2 separate regions of the Homo sapiens genome follow, and region 2 is linked to region 1. Evidence: fine-mapped expression QTL. A gene starts in region 1. The other region holds a variant in brackets. All regions are shown on one strand. Distances are from middle to middle. Region 1 holds the start of ING5 (inhibitor of growth family member 5). Region 2 overlaps ING5 (inhibitor of growth family member 5).

The links. PIP is the estimated chance that this variant, and not a neighbour inherited with it, causes the effect.
Region 2: its variant is fine-mapped to the expression of ING5 in thyroid (GTEx, PIP 0.92).

The regions. Positions count from the first base shown.
Region 1 is chr2:241,697,480-241,709,558 of GRCh38, forward strand. It overlaps ING5 (inhibitor of growth family member 5), which reads left to right and starts at 4,560. Exons shown (of 8, transcript NM_032329.6): 1 at 4,560-4,623; 2 at 7,174-7,245; 3 at 11,737-11,903. The coding sequence starts at 4,587. RefSeq lists silencers at 3,854-4,673, 4,416-4,579, 4,764-5,323 and enhancers at 3,978-4,810, 5,049-5,678.
Region 2 is chr2:241,720,020-241,732,212 of GRCh38, forward strand. It overlaps ING5 (inhibitor of growth family member 5), which reads left to right. Exons shown (of 8, transcript NM_032329.6): 6 at 2,920-3,055; 7 at 3,191-3,252; 8 at 4,970-9,459. The coding sequence ends at 5,012. Among named protein-coding and RNA genes, the nearest start is that of D2HGDH, 8.5 kb to the right of the region's middle. The variant T/C (reference allele first, on the strand shown) is at 5,545.

The DNA.
Region 1 (12,079 bases):
GGACGTTGGAATATTTTTCAAATTAAACATGAACTAGCTATTAAGCCACGGAAAGGCACGCTGGGACCTTAAATGCATATTGCTGAGTGAAAGAAGCCATTCTGAAAAGGCTCATACTGTATGATTCCAATTACATGACATTCTGGAAAAAGCAAACTGGAAACAGTAAAATGATCAGTGGTTGCCAGGGGCCTCGGGAGGGGGAGAGGGATGAATCGGGAAGCGCAGGGGATTTTTAGGGCCACAAAACTATGCTGTATGACATGTAATGGGGGGTAGCTGACATTATACATTTGTCAAAACCTATAAGAATGCACAAGGCACTGGGCGTGGTGGCTCACGCCCGTAATCCCAACACTTTGGAAGGCTGATGCCAGTGGATCACCTAAGTTTAGGAGTTTGAAACCAGCCTGGCCAACAGGGTGAAACCCCATCTCTGCTTAAAATACAAAACTTAGCCAGGCGTGGTGGTGCCTGCCTGTAATCCCAGCTACTTGGGAGGCTGAGGCAGGAGAATGGCTGGAACCCAGAAGGCGGAGGTTGTAGTAAGCCAAGATTGCACCATTGCACTCCATCCTGGGCGAAGAAGCCAGGCTCCATCTCAAAAAAAAAAAAAAAAAAGCACAAGGCAGAATGAACCCTTATGGAAATAATGATGGACTTTGGTTAATAATAATGTATCGGGCCCGCCGTGGTGGCTCACGCCTGTAATCCCAGCACTTTGGGAGGCCAAGGCAGGAGGATCATGAGGTCAGGTGATCAAGACCATCCTGGCTAACACGGTGAAACCCCCGTCTCTACTGAAAATACAAAAAATTAGCCGGGCATGGTGGCGGGCACCTGTAGTTCCAGCTACTCAGGAGGCTGAGGCGGGAGAATGGCGTGGATCCGGGAGGTGGAGCTTGCAGTGAGCCGAGCCCAGCTAATTTGAGGTCTCAAAAAAAAAAAAAGTATCAATATTGTTTCATCGATTGTAACAAATGTATCACATTAATGCAAAATGTTTATAATAGAGGAGTGTGTGTGTGTGTGTGTGTGTGTGTGTGTGTGTGTGTGTGTGGAGGAGTATATGAGAAGTCTACTTTCTCTTCAACTTTTCAATAAACCTAAAACTGATGGAAAAATAGTCTATAATTAAATGAGGCCAGTAAGGATGCACTCAAACTGCTAACATTAGGACTGAAAGCTGAACAAGGCAATCACAGTCCTGCCCCCTGGGGAGGTGGGAAGCTAAAAGTTCCTGTATTGTTTAATTTTTTTGTTTTTGAGACAGAGTCTTGCTCTTGTTGCCCAGGCTGGAATGCAATGGCATGATTTTGGCTCACCGCAGCCTCTGCCTCCTGGGTTCAAGTGATTCTCCTGCCTCACCTTCCCAAGTAGCTGGGATTACAGGCAGCTACCACCACAACCAGCTACTTTTGTATTTTTAATAGAGATGGGGTTTCTCTGTATTGGTCAGGCTGGTCTCGAACTCCCGACCTCAGGTGATCCACCCACCTTGGCCTCCCAAAGTGCTGGGATTACAGGCGTGAGCCACCACCCCAGCTGAATTTTTTTTTGGGGGGGGAGGGGTTTGCTCTTGTAGCCCAGGCTGGAGTGCAATGGCATGACCTCAGCTGACTGCATCCTCTGCCTCCTAGGTTCAAATGATTCTCCTGCCTCAGGCTCCCGAGCAGCTGAGATTGCAGGCCCATGCCCACCACGCCTGGCTAATTTTGTATTTTTAGTAGAGACTGGGTTTCTCCATGTTGGTCAGGCTGGTCTCAAACTCCTGACCTCAGGTGATCCACCCACCTCATCCTTCCAAAGTGCTGGGATTACAGGCGTGAGCCACCATGCCTGGCCTGAATTTTTATAATGAACATAATAGTGGCAAAAACATTGTTTCTGGTTTTCAATATTTGACTGGGGTTTAGGGAAGAGTCCACCAAGGGGGACATAGCTTGTTTTTTTAGGTGGGGGTCTCCGTCACCCAGGCAAGAGTACAGTGGTTTGATCATGGCTCACTGCAGCCTAGACCTCCTGGGCTCAAGCCATCCTCCCGCCTCAGCCTCTCATGGTGATCATACGGATTTGAGTCACAGCAGCTGGCTTAATATCTTTAAAAATGCATTTTAAATAATGAAAGTACTGCTCCTTTGATCAGCTTATGCTAATTTGTGTGACCAGCAACGTTGCATCTCGGAAGTCAAGGATGTGGCTGGGGGTGGGGCGGGGGGTTCTGGGGCCTACACGTTACATCTAGTGGTCATCAGTTCTTGGGGCTCGGGGAGCCTTTGGGACGTCCTCTTGAGATCACAGGGAGTGGAGACAGGACTGGGAAGTGACACACCTCACCCATGAAAGACCTGCCAGAGATGAGTTTGATCCCCAGCTTGGGGGCGTCCAGTGGTGAAGTGGGAAGAGGAGTGACATGGGTACTGGTGAGCACTGCATGATGATGCTACACAGTTTGGAGGCAGAGAAGAATCACCCCAAAGACTAATATTTAAACACTTTAAATTATTTTATTTTATATTTTAAGATGGAGTCTCGCTCTGTCACCCAGGCTGGAGTGCAGTGGCACGATCTCGGCTCACTGCAACCTCCACGTACCAGGTTCAAGTGATTCTCCTTCCTCAGCCTCCTGGGTAGCTGGGATTACAGGCACCAGCCATTATGCCCGGCTAAGTTTTTTTTTTTTTTTTTTTTTTTTGGGACGGAGTGTTGCTCTGTCGCCCAGGCTGGAGTGCAATGGCACGATCTCGGCTCACCGCAAGCTCAGCCTCCCGGGTTCACGCCATTCTCCTGCCTCGGCCGCCCGAGTAGCTGGGATTACAGGCGCCCGCCACCATGCCCAGCTAATTTTTTTGTAGTTTTAGTAGAGATGGGGTTTCACCGTGTTAGGCAGGATGGTCTCAATCTCCTGACCTCGTGATCCTCCCGCCTTGGCCTCCCAAAGTGCTGGAATTACAGGAGTGAGCCACCGCGCCTGCCCTATTTTATTTTATTTTTGAGATGGAATCTTGCTCTGCTGGCCAGGCTGGAGTGCAGTGGTGCAATCTCGGCTCACTGCAACCTCCGCCTCCCAAGCTCAAGCGATTCTCCTGTTTCAGCCTCCCGAGTATCTGGGATTACAGGTACTTGCCACCATGCCCGGCTAGTTTTTGTATTATTATTATTTTGAGACGGAGTCTTGCTCTTGTCACCCAAGCTGCAGTGCAGTTACATGATCTCTTCTCACTGCAACCTCCCTCTCCCAAGTTCAAGTAATTTTCCTGCCTCAGTCTCCGAGTAGCTGGGAGTACAGGCGCCCGCCACCACGCCCGGGTAATTTTTGTATTTTTAGTAGAGACATGATTTCGCCACGTTGGCCAGGCTGGTCTCAAATTCCTGCCCTCAAGTGATCCGCCCGCCTCGGCCTCCCAAAGTGTTGGGATTACAGGCGTGAGCCACCGTGCCGAGTCTGAAACATATTTTAATTATGTTTCTCCAGTATTTTTTTTTTCTTAAAATTTTCTTTTTTTTTTTTGAAGACAGAGTCTTGCTCTGTCGCCCAGGCTGGAGTGCAGACGCGATCTCAGCTCACTACAACCTCCGCCTCCCGGGCTCAGCCTCCGGAGTAGCTGGGACTACAGGCGTGCGCCACCACGCTTGGCTAATTTTTTTTTTTTTTTGTATTTTTAGTAGAGTCGGGGTTTCAACACGTTGGCCAGGCTGGTCTCAAATTCCTGCCCTCAAGTGATCCGCCCGCCTCGGCCTCCCAAAGTGATGGGATTACAGGCGTGCGCCAGCGCGCCGGCCTTCTCCAGTATTTTTGCATGCATCTTACGGCACACCTTTGCACGCCATCTTATTAACTATATCATACTGCCGCACGTGCCTTTTCGGCCAAGGCATCCAGATGGTGCGGGTCCTGCCTGCCTCGAGAGGTGGCAGCAAAGGAGCCAGTGCCCTCACTGGTGCTGGGCGGGGCGGCCGCTTTCCTCGGAGGGAAGGGGCGGCGTTGGCGGGGGAAGGGCGCCAGGGCCCAGGCCCTGAGGGAGGGGCAGCTCGCCCGGGCCACGCGGTGCCGGCCCTCGGCTCAGGCCGGGCTGAGGCCCCGGGGGCTCGGGGTCCGGGGGAAAGGCGCTGAGCCAGACAGGTCCCAAGGAGCCTTCGGGAAGGGAGGGCCTCGTGGCGGCCTGTCCGGGACCCGGCCGGGAGCAGGGGTCGCGTGGGCGCCGTCAGGACGGGCGTGAGGTCCCCGGGACCACGTGTTTGCGTTTGGTGGCCCAGGGGTCGCTGACAGGTGCGGAGGGGAGACGCCCACCTGGGTGCCCTGGGCCGCACGCCGGGCGGTGGGGCCGGGAACCCCTGCTCCTCCTCGGCCTCCGATCCGCTGCGGCCCTGGGTCCTGCTCGCTGCCCGACGCCGCTGCCACAACCTCCGCCCGGGCCCCGCAGCCCGCCGCCCGCCGGAAGCTGAAAGGCGTGTCCGACCCCGCCCCCGGGCGCGACCAATCAGCGCGCGCGACTCATGAATAGTGAGCGCGCTGGCACCGCCCCGCCCCCGCCTCCCGCGGCACCGCCCGCCCGCGCAGACCCCGAGCGCGGCCGCGGACGAAGATGGCGACCGCCATGTACTTGGAGCACTATCTGGACAGTAAGCGCGCCCCACGGGCCCCGCGCCCGCCGCCCACGCGGAGTCCTCCGTGCCGCAGCCCCCCGCGCGCCGGGCACCGCATGCAGACCCCGTGGGCTCGGGAGGGCGGCGGGCGCGGCCGGGCGCGACGGGGGGCGCGCGGACGGGGCGGGGCAGGGCCGCAAGGGAGGGGAGGGCGCGGGGGGCGGGCGCGGGGGGTCCCGCCGGCTGGGTCGCGCCAATTCCAGGTGCGTCACGGCGGGGCGGGGCCTGGCGATGCTGGGCGGGGCTTGCGGCCTCGACCCCGCCCACATATTAGGTCCCGCCCCTACCCAGGCCCCGCCTCATCTCCGCCCCCAGCTCCGGCCCCGGCCCCGCCAGGTCCCGCCCGTCCCTGTCCCGTCTGCAGGAGGAGCTGGCGCCCGCTGCGGGGCTCCGGGCCTTGGGGGCTCCGGGGTCTGGGCCTCCGCCTGGCTGTGCGCCCGTGTGCGCCGGCCTCTTGTGTGACCGCGGCTGGGGAGGGCGTGCGGGCCGCGGGGCGTCTCTCCCCGGCACTGGGGACTGCGGCGCGGAGGCGGGGAGGGCGGTGCCGAGTCGGCCCTGGTGGGCGGGCTGTGCTGTTTCCAGGTGGCAGCAGGTCGGCGCCCCCAGCGGCTGAGCGGACGGTGCTTTCCCTCACTTTACACACCAGGGAAGGTCCAGCGCTGCCGAGCAGCCTGCTCAGGGTCTCCCGCTCGTAGAGGGGCAGACCCCACGCGGGACCCCTGACGTCGGCCCGGGATGGGCACAGCTTTGGGGTCGCGGTGTTTGGGGTTGTGCCGGGTGGCTCTGGAGGGCCCTTGTGGGGGCGCTGCACTGGGGATCCTCATGGTCTTCGGCCTGGCACCCGCCCAGGGGCTGAGACAGTGGCGAGTGAGCCGTGGCCTGGAGCTGGAGACCGCTGCCCTAGAGGGACGCCCGATTCTGCCCATGTGCTCCGCTGTCTCTTGGGGGTCTGAGTAGTGGGGGGTTCCCTGGGTAGAAGAGTCAAGCTGGGGAGCACGCTGGAGGGGAGGCCTTCTCTATCCTGGTGCCCAGCCAGTGGGCTGGCCTCCCAAGGAGGGTTGACTTTGTGTGTGTCTGGGAGGCTGTGCCAGCCGGGAGGCTGTGCCTCTGTCCTCTAGGGGAGCTGGGAAAACACTGGGGCTGGAAGCATCAGATGCATAAGATAGAGTTAGGTTTAAAATGATTGCCTGGTAACTGTGAACAGCAGATGGGAGGGTGGCCAAGACTGGAGGAGGCAGCCCCCCTTAGGAGCCTGTGTCAGCTGTGCAGGGGGCGGAGGTTGGCCTGGTCTAGGGGGTAACAAAGCAGACGCGAAAGCAGCACGGGGGTCCTCCTGGCAGACTGTGGGGAATGGTTGCGCTAGCCACAGGGACTATTTAAGTAAAATTAAAAATTGAATGGCGTTAGTCCCATTTCCAGTGCTCAGTAGCTCCCTATGGCCACCACTGTCTTGGGCAGCTCAGAGAGAACATTTCTTTTCTTTTTCTTTTTTTGATTTTTTTTGAAATGGAGTCTCACCCTGTTGCCCAGGTTGGAGGGTATGATCTCAGCACACTGCAACCTCCACCTCCCAGGTTCAAGCAATTCTCATGCCCTAGCCTCTCGAGTAGCTGGGACTGTAGCTGTGCACCACCACGCCTGGATAATTTTTGTATTTTTAGTAGAGACAGGGTTTCACCATGTTGGCCAGGCTGGTCTTGAACTCCTGACCTCAACTGATTTGCCTGTCTTGATCTCCCAAAGTGCTGGGATTACAGGTATGAGCCACCACGCCCATCCGAGAGAGGAAACATTTCTATCCTTGCATAAAGTCGCGTGGGCAGCGTGGCTACACTGCTCAATGCACTGGATTTCTGGGTAAAGTAGGGGAAGATCAAGGAGGACCCAGGGGATTTTGGCTTGAGCCTTGGAAGATGCTGCTCACTGAGGGGGGGCAGCCTAGAGGGTGGGGTCAGTTGGCCTCCCCTGCCTGTGCTGTTGGTTTCCAAGTTTCCCTCTCCCTTCTTTGACTTCTGACAGCTTCCGAAGTGTGCACACAGCCTCTTGTCAGCACTGTTTGGTACCTGCATCTAAAAATGAGATCACAGTCCTTCCGCTCCGCAAACCCTGACAGAGACAGAATACAGAGTGGGCTTGTAGACTTGAAGTATAAAACTTTTGGCCAGTCCTGGTGGCTCACACCTGTAATCCCAGCACTTTGAGAGGCCGAGGTGGGCGGATCACCTGAGGTCAGGAGTTCGAGACAAGCCTGGCCAACCTTGTGAAACCCCGTCTCAACTAAAAATACAAAAACTAGCCGGGCATGGTGGCATGTGCCTGTAATCCCAGCTACTCAGGAGGCGGAGGCGTGAGAATCACTTGAACCTGGGAGGTGTAGGTTGCAGTGAGCCAAGATCGCACCACTGCACTCCAGCCTGGGCAACAAGAGTGAAACTCCATCTCAAAAAAAAAAGACAGAAAACCTTTGGAGGTGAATTTTTGTCTTGCTGCTGAGAGGTACATGGCTTCTGTGTTTTTGCGTTTCAGGTATCGAGAACCTTCCCTGCGAACTTCAGAGGAACTTCCAGCTGATGCGAGAGCTGGACCAGAGGACGGAAGGTGGGTTCAGACCTCTCCATACAACCAGAACTGAGTTCTGACAGGTGGGAGCCAGCAGCTCCTGAAGGCTGGGGGCAGAGGGTTTTGAGGGGACCCAGGTTAGTGGGGCATTGGCCTAGCCCTGGGCCGTGGGTATCACTCAGTGTCTTGCAGTAGGTGTTGATACTTTTGAAGCCACATTGTTTCTTGGGTTCTTACACATCTTTATATCATGTTTTTATAACCATCACCCTTTCCAATCAAAATATTTATTGCCAATTTTTTCTTTTAAATATTTTCAATTTTCAAAGTGTGTAGTGCGTGCATTGTTTTAAAAGTTTGGTAGTACTTTTTGGCCGTTTGATATTTAACTCCGTTTCTTTTTTTTTGAGACGGAGTCTTGCTTTGTCGCCCAGTCCGGAGTGCAGTGACGTGATCTCAGCTCACTGCAAGCTCTGCCTCCTGGGTTCACACCATTCTCTTGCCTCAGCCTCCTGAGTAGCTGGGACTACAGGTGCCCGCCACCACGCCTGGCTAATTTTTTTTTTGTATTTTTAGTAGAGACGGGGTTTCACCGTGTTAGCCAGGATGGTCTTGATCTCCTCACCTCATGATCTGCCCGCCTCAGCCTCCCAAAGTGCTGGGATTACAAGCGTGAGCCACCTCGCCTGGCCCTAACTCTGTTTTTTTCTTTTTTTTTTTTTTTTTTTTTGAGACAGAGTCTCACTCTGTTGCCCAGGCTAGAGTGCAGTGGCACGATCTTGGCTCACTGCAACCTCCACCTCCCGGGTTCAAGTGATTCTCCTGCCTCAGCCTCCCGAGTAGCTGGGACTACAGTCACATGCCACCACACCCAGCTAATTTTTTGTATTTTTAGTAGAGACAGGGTTTCACCATGTTCACCATGTTAGCCAGGATGGTCTTGATCTACTGACCTCATGATCCGCCTGCCTAGGCCTCCCAAAGTGCTGGGATTACAGGCATGAGCCACCGCGCCCGGCCCTTAAACTCCCTGTTTCTAAACAACATGTTTTTGTTGCTGTTTCTTATTTTATCTCTCGTCAGTTTTAGACGTTGTTCAGACGTATATGGCACAGGCAGCTGTACTTCTCCAGTGGCCCCCACACCCTCACATGCCCTCACCTGGCTCCCCCATCTCCTGGCTGTAGGTTGTTAGAATTTGTGGTGAGACCAGTGATGGGACTTCCATTGGGCAGCTGTGTAGGTACTTTAACACTGAGCCATGCCACCTGCTGTGCTTATATGACCTCTTTGGAATAACTTTGTGTATTTCTTAGAGTTACTCATGGCCCTGTTTGTTGGCTTTGTTTTCTGCATTCGACCCTTGTCTCCCCAGCTGGGCTTTTCCTTGTGGTCTGTCAGGCTGTCTACCCTGACAGTTCTGTGTGTGCTTTCTTTCCGCAGAGCCCTCTGTCCTGGAGGCCACAGTCCTGATTGTTTCCATGCCAACTGCACACTTGTTGCCCTGAGGTTTTCCTGGGATCTCCTTTCACCCCTCTTCAGTGTGGGACCCTCTTCCCTGAATCTTAAATGTCTTCTTTTTGCCCTTGCTCTCCTGTTTTGATAGAGCCTTTCCTTTGGTAGGTTCCTGAAAAAAAGGCACATAGGAAGGTAGATTTTCTTGGCCAGGCACGGTGGCTCATGCCTGTAATCCCAGCACTTTGGGAGGCTGAGGTGGGCAGATCACCTGAGGTCAGGAGTTCGAGACCAGCCTGATCGACATGGAGAAACCCCGTCTCTACTAAAAATACAAAATTAGCCGGGTGTGGTGGCGCACGCCTATAATCCCAGCTAATTGGGAGGCTGAGGCAGGAGAATCACTTGAACCTGGAGGCGGAGGTTGCACCTGGAGATCGCACCATTGCACTCCACCCTGGGCAACAAGAGCGAAACTCCATCTCAAAAAAAAAAAAAAAAAAGAAAAAAAGGAAGGTAGATTTTCTTGTAACATTGCATGTCTGAAAATGTGTTTGTTCTAGCCTCATACTCAGCTGATAGTTTGGTTGGGTATAGAATCCTAGGTTGACAATTGTTTTCACTCAGGAAGTTGGCGACATTGCTGCCTTGTCTCCTAGCTTCCACGTTGCTGCAGAAAATCTGGTGCCGTTTGGATTCTTGGTCCTTTATATGTGTGATCTATTTTTTTTTTGTTATTCCTATTCAGAAGCTTTTGAGATGTTTCCTTTATCTCTGAAGTTTTAAATTTCATGATAATGTGTTTTGGTGTGGCAATTTTTTTTTTTTTTTTTTTTGAGATGGAGTTTCACTCTTGTTGCCCAGGCTGGCGTGCGATGGCGCGATCTTGGCTCAACACAACCTCTGCCTCCCAGGTTCAAGTGATTCTCCTGCCTCAGCCTCCCGAGTAGCTGGGATTACAGGCATGCACCATCATGCCCAGCTAATTTTGTATTTTTAATAGAGATGGGGTTTCTCCATGTTGATCAGGTTGGTCTCAAACTCTCAACCTCAGGTGATCTGCCCGCCTTGGCCTCCCAAAGTGCTGGTATTACAGGTGTGAGCCACTGTGCCTGGCCTGAGATTTTTTATTCATTATGCTGGGCACAGGTTTGTTTTTTTTGTTTTGAGATGGAGTTTCGCTCTTGTTGTCCAGGCTGGAGTGCAATGGCACGATCTCAGCTCACCGCAACCTCCGCCTCCCGGGTTCAAGCAATTCTCCTGCCTCAGCCTCCCGAGTAGCTGGGATTACAGGCATGCGCCACCACACCCTGCTAATTTTTTGTATTTTAAGTAGAGACGGGGTTTCTCCATGTTGGTCAGGCTGGTCTTGAACTCCTGACCTCAGGTTCATCCACCCGCCTTGGCCTCCCAAAGTGCTGGGATTACAGACGTGAGTACCACACCCGGCCTGGGCACATGTTTTGCAAGACTGAGATAGCTGTGTTTTTTTCCTTAGGTACAGCATCTTGACTAGGGAATACAGAGAGTTATTTTATTGTGAAATGTAACATATATTCAGGAAATGAATGTGCAACAATTATAGATTGCTTAACAAATATTACCAGGTGAACCTCTCTGTTGTCTGCTACCGAGATGGAGAAATCAAGCCCTTTGGCACCTGAAGGCCTTTGTGACCCTCCTAGTCATGACACCCCTCCCCAACCAAGGGGTGACCATCCTGAGTTTGGTGACAGTCACCTTCCACCTTTAACAGTAGTTTTCTTTTTTTTTTCTGAGACGGAGTCTCGCTTTACCATCAGGCTGGAGTGCAGTGGCACGGTCTCGGCTCACTGCAACCTCTGCCTCCTGGGTGCAAGTGATTCTCCTGCCTCAGCCTCCTGAGTAGCTGGGACCATAGGCACGTAACACCATGCCCAGCTAATTGTTGTATTTTTAGAAGAGACGGGGTTTCACCACATTGGCCAGGATGGTTTCCATCTCTTAACCTCGTGATCCTCCTGCCTTGGCCTCCCAAAGTGCTGGGATCACAGGCGTGAGCCGCCGTGCATGGCCTTCAACAGTTTTCTTTTGTTTTTTTTTTTTGAGATGGAGTCTCACTCTTTCGCCCAGGCCGGACTGCAGTGGCGCTATCTTGGCTTTCTTCAAGCCCCGCCTCCTGGGTTCACGCCATTCTCCTGCCTCAGCCTCCCGAGTAGCTGGGACTATAGGCACCCGCCACCACGCCCGGCTAATTTTTTGTATTTTTAGTAGAGACGGGGTTTCATCAAGTTAGCCAGGATGGTCTCGATCTCCTGACCTCGTGATCTGCCCGCCTCGGCCTCCAAAAGTGCTGGGATTACAGGCGTGAGCCACCACGCCTGGCCTAGTTTTCTTACCCCTCTAAACTGAAGGGTTAAGAGTTGTGTCTGTTTCTGCTCTTCATATTAATGGAATCATCCAGTATGTTTTCTTTTGTTTCTTGCTCTTTTTGCTCCGTGTCACCTTCTCTGGGAATCATCCGTGTTGCTGTGTGTGGCTGTAGTTTGCTCTTTTTGTTGCTGAGTAGCACTCTGTTGTCTGAAGGGACCACAGCTTATTTCTCCATTTTACTGAGGATTGGACATTGGGGTTGTTTTCTGTTTTCTGCTCTTATGAATGTTTCCCGTGTGGATTTCTTTAGGTGACATAAGGTTTGTTTAGGGTATTTAAGAGTAGTGTGTTCTTTCTTGACTGCTCTACCGGAAAAAAAGAAAAGGGAAAAAAGAGTAGTATGCCAGGTCATAGGAAAGGTGGCTACAAGTTATTCATACAGGATGTTTGAGAGTCGAAGAAGGCACTGTGACCACTTGCTGTGTAACATTCAGAGCTGGGACTGTCCTGGGCACGTTGCCGTAAAGTCTGCACATTCACACGATCCCAGACTGTTTGTGCAGAACGGTTCTGCCCACTTGCGCTCCCACCAGCACAGCGTGAGTTCATGTCAGCCTACATCTTTGCCACAACTTGGCGTTGGCTGACTTTAGTTGTTGCCAGTCTGGTGAGCACATCATGGTGTCTTGTGCAGGGCTAGCTTTTCCCCCATTTCTCCATCAGATAAGAAAGCAGAGATTGACATCCTGGCTGCAGAGTACATCTCCACGGTGAAGACGCTGTCTCCAGACCAGCGCGTGGAGCGCCTGCAGAAGATCCAGAACGCCTACAGCAAGTGCAAGGAATACAGTGACGACAAAGTGCAGCTGGCCATGCAGACCTACGAGATGGTGAGGGCGGGGCGGGGGCCATGGCTCTTCCTCTGACCTCTACTCCTGCCTCTCATGCAACAAAATGTAAAAACTGCCCGGAAATGGGCATAGCCAAGTGGAAGGCTGGCTTTGGTAGCTGACGCTGCTGGAGGAAGTGCAGACGGAATACACTTCATGTAGGACCATCCCTGTTT
Region 2 (12,193 bases), 23 kb after region 1:
GGTAAGGCCAGCTCTGAAGCTGGGCTCTGACGTCCAAGGCGCCAAGGAGGCCCCTTCCAGAGGGACAGGAGGATGGTGCAGGTGGGCAGACGGGTCATCCTGAGGACCAGTCGGTTGGACCCAAAGCCTGGCCTGCCGGGGCGGGAGTGTGCACTCGGGTGCCTCCAAGGGCATCATCCTGGGTGTGTGCAGGAGCCCGCCTGCCCCTGGGCTCTGGAGTTCTGTGGTGCGCGTCCCTGACCCATCAGCACAGTGGGTATTCACGCCCCTCGTGGTCACGCTGTGGTGCCAGGCCGCTCTGCCTCAAGGCAGGTCCTGTTCCCTGCTGGGGACCCAGGCGCACGCACCATCCTGTCCCTGTGGACTGCCCTCTTCAGGCCTGTTCCCCACGTGCCCGGGGCTCTTCCTGGAATGCAGTGTTCCTAGACTGCACAGATGCTCCGTGTCTCGTCTGAGATCCCGTGACCTGAGGCTGCCCCCTGCACTGTTGCTGCCCTGTGGCCTTGCTCTGGCGAGGCAGAACCTGTGTGTGTGGATGAAGGGCAGTGTCACCTGTAGCACCTGGAATCCCGGGGCTTGGACAGGCAGCCAGCCCCCTGCTAGGAGCCACGTGGAGTGCTGGGAAGCCATCGGGGCCGGGCGCGGAAGGGCTCGCTGGCACCGTCTGGCGAGGGGTGCCTGCCACACCCTGGGGAGTTAGCACAGAGGGTGCCTCTTGTGGCAGTGGTGCTGAAGGGAGTCAGCAGCCGCTGACAGTTGGGGTCACCCTGGCCTGTGCAAGGGACAGGGCTCCCCATGGCCTCCTGGTTGCCTCCCTCAGGGCTGATAGCAGCACTCCCTGGCCACACGCCATGGCGCTCCCTCAGGCGAGACTGAGAGGCCAGTGAGGCCTGCACGGTGGCCTCAGCTTCTGGGGTGCCCTTGCTGGGCGGTCCCCTCAGGCCCCCGGCCCTCTCCCACAGCCATCAAATCTGGCCAGCGCCCTCGAACCTGGTGATGCTGAGACACAGGTCAAGTGGCAGCTCAAGATGTCAGGTCGGGCTTTGTGGACAGAATTGGACTCGGCGCAGAAGAGGAGGGCGTCAGCGTTTCGGGGACGGTTGGCAGCAGAGGGTGCTGCCCTGCTCTCCGCGGGTGAGAGGTGACTCGAGGAGACCGCAGGAGCCCCTTGGAGGTGAAGCCACAGGTGGCATCCCGGAATCGGCAGGAGGCTGAGACGTAGACCCTTGCGTGCTGCTGTCAGAGGAGAGACCCGAAGACTACTTGAGACTGTTGCTTGAAAGCAGTGTCGGCAGCACCTGGACCTGGACTTGTGACGCTGATGGATTTCAGCTCTAAAGAGAAACCCCTGTCTATTCCCAGACAGAGAGAAAGAGCAGAAGAGCAGATTACCTGCAAAGGACAGACTTAGGTGGGCGCCCCTGTGCCAGAGGGCAGCGGGGAGGCCGGGTGCATGCTGAGCCCGAGTGTGTGTGTATGTGTACAGGCAATTGCAAAGGCGTAGAAAAGCTTTAGACAGGTATCCAAGGAAAAGCTGAGTGTTGATTCCCTCTGGGACCCAGACTTCTGCTCCTTGGCTTTCCCTGATCGTGACTGTTTTTCTCACGGCCACGTTCCTCCTGCTAACCTGCTGTGTTTACATACCAACTAGATATTCGTGGGTTGGAGGGTGGGATAGGGAAGATACTTTTTCTTTCTGTACTAATGGGAATACACTGTCTATAGTACCTGCAGCTTGTAAGTTTATTTGAAAAATACTGAAATATAAAAGCGTAAATTTCCCCCTAAGTGCATCCCTTTCAAACAGGAAAGTCTCCACCTGAGGTCTGTGGTCCTGGTGGGACGGCCATGGTGCTACAGGTGGCAGGCTTGGAGGGAGGCATAGACGGGGTGGAACACCTGCCAGGCTGCTGTGTAGAAACCCACGTGGGAGCTGATGGGGATGAAGGAGTGACAAGGATGGTGTGTGGTCGGAAGGGGCCCTGTGCCAGGTGGACAGCTGGGTGGGTGGTGGGCGGTCCAGGGAGTGTGTGGGGAGCTGCTGGTTGAGTCAGTATTGGGGCAGAGGTGCCTGAGTAGGTGCGTGGAGGGCCCGGGCGCAGGACGCATGGCTGTTCTCTTGGGAGGAGGTCACAGTTACGGGAGAGCTGTTGACTGTGCGGGCTGCTCTGACACCTGTCAGTCTGGAGTGGGAGGCTGGCAGGCTTCTCTCAGGTGTCAGCCGTCTGCTGGCAGAGGTGACGTGTGCTTGTTTCCAAAGGGGCCGGGGTCTTTGGAGGGATGGCCCAGAAGTGGGTTGAGTCCAGAGGTCCCCGGGGGAGTCCTGTCTGGGAGGAGGGACCGAGATGAGAGTGGACTCGTCCCCAGAGTGGGACCAGAACCCCGGTGCTGTGGGTGAGTGCTGCGCTTCACGGCCTCCTGGGGGCCCTCTGTGCCCCCATGCCCCTGCCTGGGCCCGAAGGTGGGCGCGAGGTCTCCACCCCTCTGCTGCCAGCTGCTGCTGTTCCTGGATTTTTGTGGGTAACTGTTCTTTCTAGCATCAGCTGACAATCTGTTCGTATACTTAATGATTTTCTTGCTGCGCCTTCTTAGAACATTGCGTGTTCAGAGGGGTTATTGAGGTTTTGAAAATGTGTGCTCCAGGAAGAAAACGTCCACAAGGTGTGTATTCAGTTAGTGCATGACTGCAGTGGCTGGCCCTGGAGTCGCATTCATTTCTAAAGGACAATGGGAAAAATGGAAGCAAGCTTATTCATTATGTGTCGCTCAGAGCACGGTACCAATTTCCCCCTTGGAATGATTGTCTTCACAGTTTTGGGGTGAGGGGGCCTTAAGTCAGAGACAGAAGGGCCCGTGGTGTCCGTGCCGCCTCACTTCCCACCATGGCCTTCAGTGGTGCCTGTGCCCTGTCCCCTGCAGGTCTGAGTTCACTGACACCATCCTGTCCGTGCACCCCTCTGATGTGCTGGACATGCCCGTGGACCCAAACGAACCCACGTACTGCCTGTGCCACCAGGTCTCCTATGGGGAGATGATTGGCTGTGACAATCCAGACGTGAGTGTCGCCTGCAGGATTCGCGCCATGGGGCGGGGTCTTGTGTGGGGCAGGGCTGGCGGATGTTGGCATTTCTTGTGTTTTGCATACAGAACATGAGGCGTGTTGACTGCGGTTTCTCCCTTTACTTTGCAGTGTCCAATTGAGTGGTTTCACTTTGCCTGCGTGGACCTTACCACGAAACCCAAAGGAAAATGGTGAGTGTGGGGACGCTCGCTCTGTTTTCTCCCAGTCTGCTGGGTGTTGCGCTGCTGGCCTCCCCAGGAGAAGGTGCTCCATGGCAGAATCTTGCCGGGCTTAGCGGGACACGGTAGCCACGTAGGCATGCCCCACTGTGGCCTCAAGGAGTGTGGCTGGCTGGTGGCTGCTCTGGGTGTGGCTTTATCCCCCCTTTGCTGCTGTGCCTGTCCGAGCTGGCAGAGGGATGCCGTCACCCAGGAATGGTGGTTACCAGGTTACGTGATATTCACGTTAATGGCCCCTCCTGAAGGACAACCTTCCGGACTCTGGGAGGTAGGGATCGTCTTAAATCAGAAATGAGAGGTTCTTGTCCCCTAGGGAAATTTGGGAAATATAGCATGAGATGTGAGCCCTGAAGCCGGGGCATGGATCTGGGGCTCTGCCCCTGGCTCTGTCTAGTGGAGAAGGGTGTGTTTTCTCTACCTGACCCTTGCATCCCCTTGGCAATGGCAACTTTCTGCATTGTTGTTCCTCAGATTTCATTTAAATAAAAACCTGTAGTCTGGGCAACATCGGGAGACCCCAACTCTACAAAAAATACAAAAATTAGCTGGGCGTGGTGGTGCGTGCCTGTGGTCCCAACTACCTGGGAGGCGGAGGCGGGAGGATGGCTTGAGCCTGGAAGTCCGAGGCTTCAGTGAGCTGAGATCGCGCCACTGCACTCCAGCCTGGGCGAGAGAGCAAGACCCTGTCTCAAATAAATAAATAAAAAGATAAAAACCTGGCTTTGTTTGCCTGTGCTGAAAATCTAAAAATGGATATCTATGTTCTGAAAATGAAATCGGAATGTGCTCTTCTGTGTGGCACTCAGAGGTCATCGTGGCAGCGTGTTTGAAACTCCGGCAGACTCGCCCGAGTTGGTAAGAGCCAGTTATCCTTGGTGTTCGGTGTGAGGACACAGGGAAAGGATGCCGTGTCTCGGAGGCTGGCCGAGCTCACGGTGTCATGTGGCGTCAACACAGGCTGTCCTGTCACAGGGACACATGGCACTGTGGTGCCCCACGCCGTGCGGCTGGGGGATGGTGCACCGAGGGTTTTGAGAAGGGGTACGGAGGCTGTTAGGGCGGAGGGCCCTGGGCAGGCTTGGGCCTGGGCCAGGCGGTGGTTGACGGTTGCCGTCATGCGAGTCGGCTGCCTCCTGCGTGGGGAACCTATGGAATGTCCTCTGTGGTCAGCAGCTGCCTCTGTTCAGGAGCCCCTTGTGCGTGCAGCTCCAGAACTTGCTCAGAGTCACCAGGGAGCACTTGTGAGACGGCAGCTTCCAGGGCCAGTGCAGGGTGCCTGGCTGGGTTTCCGTGGGCCTGAGGGGCTGCCATGCTCTCAACGCGTGCTTGGTACCTGCAGCCCCCACAGACTGCAGACAGAGGGCACCAGCGACCCTGCCATCGGCCGGGGAAGAAGGACCCACCTGTTAAGGAGGAACGCCTGGGTGTCAAATCGGTTTTGCTCATTGATGGTGTATCTGTCAGCTTCAGAACCGGCGTCCTGCATAGAGCCGCACGTGCATCGGCGCATTTTCCCTGCGGGAGGGCCGCGGCCCCACTGCGTGTGCCTCTCCTGGTGCCCTCCTGCCGGCGTCCAGCAGCCCTGGGAGACATGGGGAGGCGGGCCCTGGGCACCCTGCGCGCTGGCGGAAATGGCGCCCAGGGCCTCACTGCGCCTTTCTTGTCACAGGTTCTGTCCACGGTGTGTCCAGGAAAAGAGGAAGAAGAAGTAGGAGGAGCTGTGTGCCCGGATCCGAGGAGCAAGTTAATCTGTCCCTTCATTCGTGTCGCAATATTTCCCTTCCTTTTAAAACTACCTTGTTCGGTTGATACTTAGTAACTCCGTGGCCAGTTGAAGCGCTGGATGTTTCCTAGAACAAGAACCACCAAAGCCTGTTCGCACAGAAGGGCGACCTTGCAGGGACTCGCCGCCGCGACCTCAGTGTGGCTTTTACAGGACTCCCCCCGAGCATCAGCAGGGACCCCGGCGGACGTGGGCGGGCGCGCGTGAGCTCGGGCTGCCCGGCCGGGCGTGCGGGCGGGGACATGGTAACCTGGTCCACGGAGGGCGGCCGCCACCCTCGCGTAGCTTTCCTGTGGTTTTCCAGGACTGTCCGGTACAGCCCGGGCTCCGCGTGCCCCGCCCGCTGGAGCACCTGCCACCGAGGCGCGCGTGGGGCCACTGCCGTGGCGGCGGCTGCCCTCCTCACACTCGGCTCCGCGCCGCCTCCGGCCACCGTGCGCTCCCGCGTGGGGCGCCTCGGA[T/C]GGGCCCGGGAGGGCTGGGGGCTCTTCCCTGGAGGAAGCGGCCTCCGCTTCGCTGGCGCCGCCTTTTTAGCTTGGACTTCAGTCCTCCCTCGGGGACTCACCTCCGGAGTAAACGGCTCTTCATTAGCTTGGAGTGGCCGCAGGTCCCGTGACCAGCACCCGCGAGACCCTGTGCGACAGCTGGGCTGATGCTCCGTTTCTCTGGGAATTGGTGATTTTTTACTGTGAAGATGAAATTACCCTAATAGCATGAAGATCGTGGGTCTGTGTGTCCGTGAAGTGAGTCCCGTCTGCCAGGAGCTGACGAACCACGAATGCTTCTGCCTGTGCTGTGCATTCCCAGGCCCGCAGCTCCCGGTCGAGGGGACTCCGATGTGAATTTGTTGTGAATTTGTTGTGCCACAATAGCAGTTCTGGAATGAAGCTAGGAAACTCGAGTGTGCTTTTTGTTTAATGAGCGTTCACCAAGCTGAGCCGGAGCCATCCTTTCGGTGGTAGTTGGGGAAGGCTATGCAGATTTGCTCTGTTGTGACGCGTTGGTGACGGTGCCCAGCCTGCGGTTCCCCACAGCATCGCAGGCGCTCGGAAATCCTCTCCCGTGCCTTTAGAGGAAGGAGAGGATTGCTGAGGAATGCAGGGACGCCTGTTTCTGTCCTCACACCACAGAAAGAAACCTGAGGGAAAACTGAGACGTGAGGTTCCTGATTTAAGAAGCCTGGGTTTCTTCATGGTGGGGGGCCATTTGGAATGACAGCCTCACTTCCTTCTGATGGCTACATCTGTATCTTTTCCTCCTGTGTTTAATGTTTCACTAGGGAGAGGAAATAAAGCAGAAGGAACGTGTGAAGCTCTGTGTCTCAGACGGGGCCCTCCCGTCGAGAAGCTGGTAGTCAGTGAGTGAGAACAAGAGAACAAGAACACCCTGAACAGTCCTGGTTGGGATGGTGTCCACATTCATGTTCTGCGGTTCTTGAACACACGGATGCCTCTGGGCCACCTGTCCTTTTCCGAGGGTGTGGGTGGGAGTGGATCCTCCGGGCGCAGGTGCCAGGCAGGTGCAGGCGGGCGGTCGGCCACTGCTGCTGCTCGTCCCTGCCAGTGTCTGGGCCTGAAGGGGCTCCCTCCAAGCGGTGCCTTCCTGCGGCTTAGAAGGGAAAGCGCCAGAGAGGGCAGGCTACAGTGCTTCACACCCTTCGCCACGGCTGTGAAACTGGAGATGGGTGGGTTTTGTATGTTAATTTTTTTTTTTGAGACGGAGTCTTGCTCTGTCACCCAGGCTGGAGAGCAGTGGCGTGATCTCGGCTCACTGCAAGCTCCGCCTCCCGGGTTCACGCCATTCTCCTGCCTCAGCCCCCCCGAGTAGCTGGGACTACAGGCGCCCGCCACCACGCCTGGCTAATTTTTTATATTTTTAGTAGAGACAGGGTTTCACCATGTTAACCAGGATGGTCTCGATCTCCTGACCTCACGATTTGCCCGCCTCGGCTTCCCAGAGTGCTGGGATTACAGGCGTGAGCCACCGCGCCTGGCCACCCAGCTAAGTTTGTATTTTTGTTGGAGACGGGGTTTCACCATATTGGCCAGACTGGTCTCAAACTCCTGGGGTCAAATGATCCGCCTGCGTCGGCTTCCCAGAGTGCTGGGATTACAGGTGTCAGCCACTGCGCTCAGCTGGGAGATGAATTTTCATTTAATGACTTAACTTTTTGTTAGCACAGGTTTTGTGTGTGTGTGTGTGTGTGTGTTTTGTTTTTTGTTTTGTGTTTTTGAAACGGAGTTTTGCTCTGTCACCCAGGCTGGAATGCAATGGCACCATCTTGGCTCACTGCAACCTCTGCTTCCTGGGTTCAAGTGATTCTCTTGCCTTAGCCTCCCGAGCAGCTGGGATTATAGGCGTCCACCACCACGCCCAGCTAATTTTTGTATTTTTAGTAGAAATGGGGTTTCACCATGTGTGGCCAGGCTGGTCTCGAACTCCTGACCTGAAGTGATCCACCCGCCTCGACCTCCCAAAGTGCTGGGATGACAGGCATGAGCCACCGCACCCGGCCAACACAGATGTTTATTGATCGTGGAGGATACATTGTGGAAAATGTTTTTCTCTCTTTTACCATTTTTGGGAAGAGGGATAGGTAAGTGCAGGGAGTTTGTGCTGAAACAGCGCCTGGCAATTTTTCAGAAATGAATTTGATATTGCGCTCCACCTTTGAGCTGTTCACACCTGTGGCTACCCCTGGAAAGCGCTGGGGTTGTTGATGCTTTTGGCTGCCCGGCTTCCTGAGGTCTCGCTGCTTTTTGGGGAAAGATGACTGGCTTCCCTGTGGGACGCTTTTGTCTGACACGTGATGATGTGGTCCTGCCTGCCACTGTGCACCATCCCAGGTATTGAATTTTGACCTTTTCTTTTCAAGTTTCTGTGCTTAGTGTTTTTAATGTTTACTTTTGCCACTTACAATAATATCACCAAAATAATATGCATAGAGTTTTGGAAGAAACATAGAAAACATGAGCAGAATGAGACAATTCCTTGGGCTGTAGTTTGGACCCAACTGAATCCTGAGTGCTCTGTGGCTGACGCTGTCTACCCGTGGGAGAGACACACTCAGGAGTGGCCGTTTGGCCAGAAAAGAAGGTCATGGCCCCTGGCCTGGCCCCCGCCCTGCAGGGACACAGAAGCCACACCATTTGCACCATCCACGCCTTGCTCCAGAAGGCCTGGCCGCCTTCTCCCTGGGGGTGATTCAAGGATTTGGTCTCGGACCAGACCCCCCTCCACAGCTGCCCGGCCCCAGACCCATCTCTTGGATTGAGGGTGTGTGGGCTGGAACCAGTGGGTCACTGTGGCAGCTTCATCTGAGCCGAAGGTGTGGGTCCTCTGTGGCTGTGCGATTGACCTCGATGGGAAGGAGCGTTCTACCCATTTTCCTTGTTTTCAGTGCTGCGGTATCAGTCAGTGATCTGAGGAAATCCTGTAGGGGAAGGCAGGCTGCAGTGAAAACAGGAGCTGGTGAAACCGAGCCCTCTGCATCTGCGAATGTGCCCTAGGTGCTGCTGCTGGGGACATGGATGCCAAGCGGAGGCCTGCGTGGCCTCCTGAGCAGCAGCTGACCGCCCGTCTCATGCTGGACGGGACCCCTGGGCGGGTGGACATGAGACCACTGTTGGCCAGGGACGCCGTGCGGAGGCCTACGTGGCTGCCTGAGCAGCAGCTGACCGCCCGTCTCACTGTTGGCCAGGGCTTTGTGGCGTGGGTGTTTTCCAGTCTGCCTGGAGCAGCGAGAAGCAGCTGTGCAGACTGGTGGCGGTGGGAGGGTTTGCTGGGACTGATGGGGACACCGGCCAGCTTGTCTGGTGTCCAGCAGCCCTGCCGGACTTGGCCTCCTGTCCTGTCGTTGGGAGCCCTGGCTGGGGCTGCTTTGAGCAATGACGCTGGCCCAGAGCAGCTTCCCACATGACCCCAGAGCCGAGGGTCTGCCCTGTCCTAGGTTAGGTCTTCATGGTTTAGAGTAAAACCGTGAGGGATGTTAATTATGGGCATTGAAGACTTAAGGTTTTCTTAAATTTTTAGTGAGCAGTGATTGGCCTTCAATACTTGTGCTGAGAGGAATTTTAAGCCAGGGGAAGTGTAAGAAAATGTTCCCATTCAGGAGAGATTGTGTTGGAGTTTCTTTCTTCCTCTGTATGTATTTTGTGGTGTCCACCTTTAACCACGTTTCATCCAAAACGATGATGCAGCTTTAACATGAATGTTACATTTTTATTTTCAAGGAATTATTATCTATGTTCCCTTTGTAAAGGAAAGATAATGTTGTAAATCTTTTTATTAGATAATGTAAAGATGTATATCAGTATTTTTGGATCATGTTATAGATTATGGATATATTGTTTAATAAATAAAGTATTTTTTGGAACAAACAATTGAAAGTGCATCTGTATTAGCCCGTTTTCACGCTGCTGATAAAGACATACCCGAGATTGGGTAATTTGTAAAGAAAAAGAGGTTTTTTTTAAAAAAAATTTTCTTTTCTCTTTTTTTGAGACGGAGTCTTGCTCTGTCACCCAGGCTGGAGTGCAATGGCACTGCATGATTTCGGCTCACTGTAACATCTGCCTCCCGGGTTCAGGTGATTCTCCTGCCTCAGCCTCCTGAGTAGCTGGGACTACAGGCACGTGCCACCACGCCCTGCTAATTTTTGTATTTTTAGTAGAGATGGGGTTTTGCCATGTTGGCCAAGCTGGTCTTGAACTCCTGACCTCAGGTGATCTGCCTGCCTCAGCCTCCCAAAGTGTTGGGATTACAGGCGTGAGCCACCGCACCTGACAGAAAAAGAGGTCTGGTGGACCCTCAGTTCCACATGGCTGGGGAGGCCTCACAATCATGGCGGGAGACGAAAGGCTTATCTTACATGGCAGCAGACAATAGAAAATGAGAGCCAAGTGAAAGGGGTTTCCCCTTAAAAAAACCATCAGATCTCGTGAGACTTATTCACTACCACGAGAAAAGTATGGGGGAACCACCCCCAAGACTCAGCATCATTTTGGGAAACAGGTGTAAAATGTCAGTGTTGTGCCCAGAGACAGGTGTGTGAAATTGAATTCTGAAGGGGTATGCAGTGATTGGAGAGTGGTTTGCGGAGCTTGCTGGCTGGGGGTCTGGGGAGGACCCTGTGCCTTACCTTGGGTGGTTGCTCAGGAAGCTCAGTGGCCAGTGCTGGGGCTCAAGTTGACTTCCAAGGAAGACGTGTGAGAATGCTGCAGTTGCTTTCTTTTTTTTTTGTTTGAGACGGAGTCTCACTCTGTTGCCCAGGCTGGAGTGCAGTGGTGCAATCTCTGCTCACTGCAAGCTCCGCCTCCCAGGTTCACGCCATTCTCCTGCCTGTGTCCCGAGTAGCTGGGACTACAGGCGCCCACCACCATGCCCGGCTAATTGTTTGTATTTTTAGTAGTGACAGGGTTTCACCGTGTTAGCCAGGATGGTCTCGATCTCCTGACCTCGTGATCCGCCTGCCTCGGCCTCCCAAAGTGCTGGGATTACAGGCGTGAGCCACCACGCCCGGCCGCTGCAGTTGCTTTCTAAAGGAGTACTGTGCTTGCTCTGGAAGGGCAAGACTTACCGTGTTGCACTTGCCTTTTGGAAGCTGCTGGAGTCAGCTTAGGCTCTGTATTAGTCCATTCTTGTATTGCTATAAAGAACGACCTGAGACTGTGTAATTTATAAAGAAATGAGGTTTAATTGACTCACAGTTCTGCAGGCTGTACAGGAAGCGTGGTGCGGAGGCCTCAGGAAACTTACATCATGGCAGAAGGCGGAGGGGAAGCAAGCACGTTTTACCACGGCAGACCAGGAGAGAAAGGGAGCAAAGGGGAAAGGTGCCACACTTTTAAACAAGCAGGTCTCCTGAGAGTTCACTTACCTCCACAAGAACAGCAAGGGGAAATCTGCGCCCATGAGCCAGTCACCTCCTACCAGGCCCCTCCCCCAACATTGGGGATTATGGGCGGGGACACAAATCCAAACCATATCAGGCTGTTATCACAATACCACAGACTGGGAGGCTTAAGAAAAATGTCTTATATTTCTGGAGATTGGAAGTCCAAGATTAAGGCGCTGGGGTTGTCTGGTGCCTGTCCAGGGCTCTTCCCTTGGGTTGTGAACACTGCCTTCTCATGTGTGCCTACGAAACTGACTGGGAGAGGGAGCTCTCTGGTGTCTCTTATTTTACGGATGCCTGTCCTGTCGGATCAGGACCCCACCCTTGTGACTGACTTTAACCTTAATTACTTCTTCAGAAGTTCCATCTCCAAATACGGCCATATTGGGGGTTACAGCTTCTGCATACGAATTCTGGGGGACACAAACATAACAGGAGCTGATGGGTCTCAAGATGTTGCCTTGAGGAGTGCATTAACAGAACCCGGGAAGAGCTTGGTCATCACGAGGTACAGTCGGCCTCTCACCCACCGTCCAGGTGAAAACCAATCCGTAGACTGGAGTCCTCGCTGGAAGAGGAGGCTGAGATGCTGGGGGAAGGCCCCACAACGCCGAAACCAGCACCTGCCATCTCGCTGGAAGAGGAGGCTGAGATGCTGGGGGAAGGCCTCACAATGCGGAAACCAGCACCTGCCATCTCGCTGGAAGAGGAGGCTGAGATGCTGGGTGAGGGCCCCACAACGCTGAAACCAGCACATGCCGTATTTTCCTCCAAGCATTCTCTGAGGGTACATGTGGGCTTTGCTAGGGTGACTATGCCCTGGGAAAAAGAAAAATCAGTTGTTATTATTTTCTGAGACAGTTTTTTTTTTTTTTTTTTGAGACAGAATCTCACTCTGTCGCCAGGCTGGAGTGCAGTGGCGTGATCTCAGCTTACTGCAACCTCTGCCTCCCAGGTTCAAGCCATTCTCTTGCCTCAGTCTCCCAAGTAGCTGGGATTATAGGCACCGACCACCATGCCCAGCTAATTTTTGTATTGTTGGTAGAGACAGGGTTTCACCATGTTGGCCAGGTTGGTGTAGGGACCAGCCCCACAGGGTCGGTGGGTCTCTCCCCATGTGCGGAGACGAGAGAGTACAGAAATAAAGACACAAGACAGAGATAAAAGAAAAGGCAGCTGGGCCTGGGGGACCACTACCATTAAGTTGCGGAGACCGG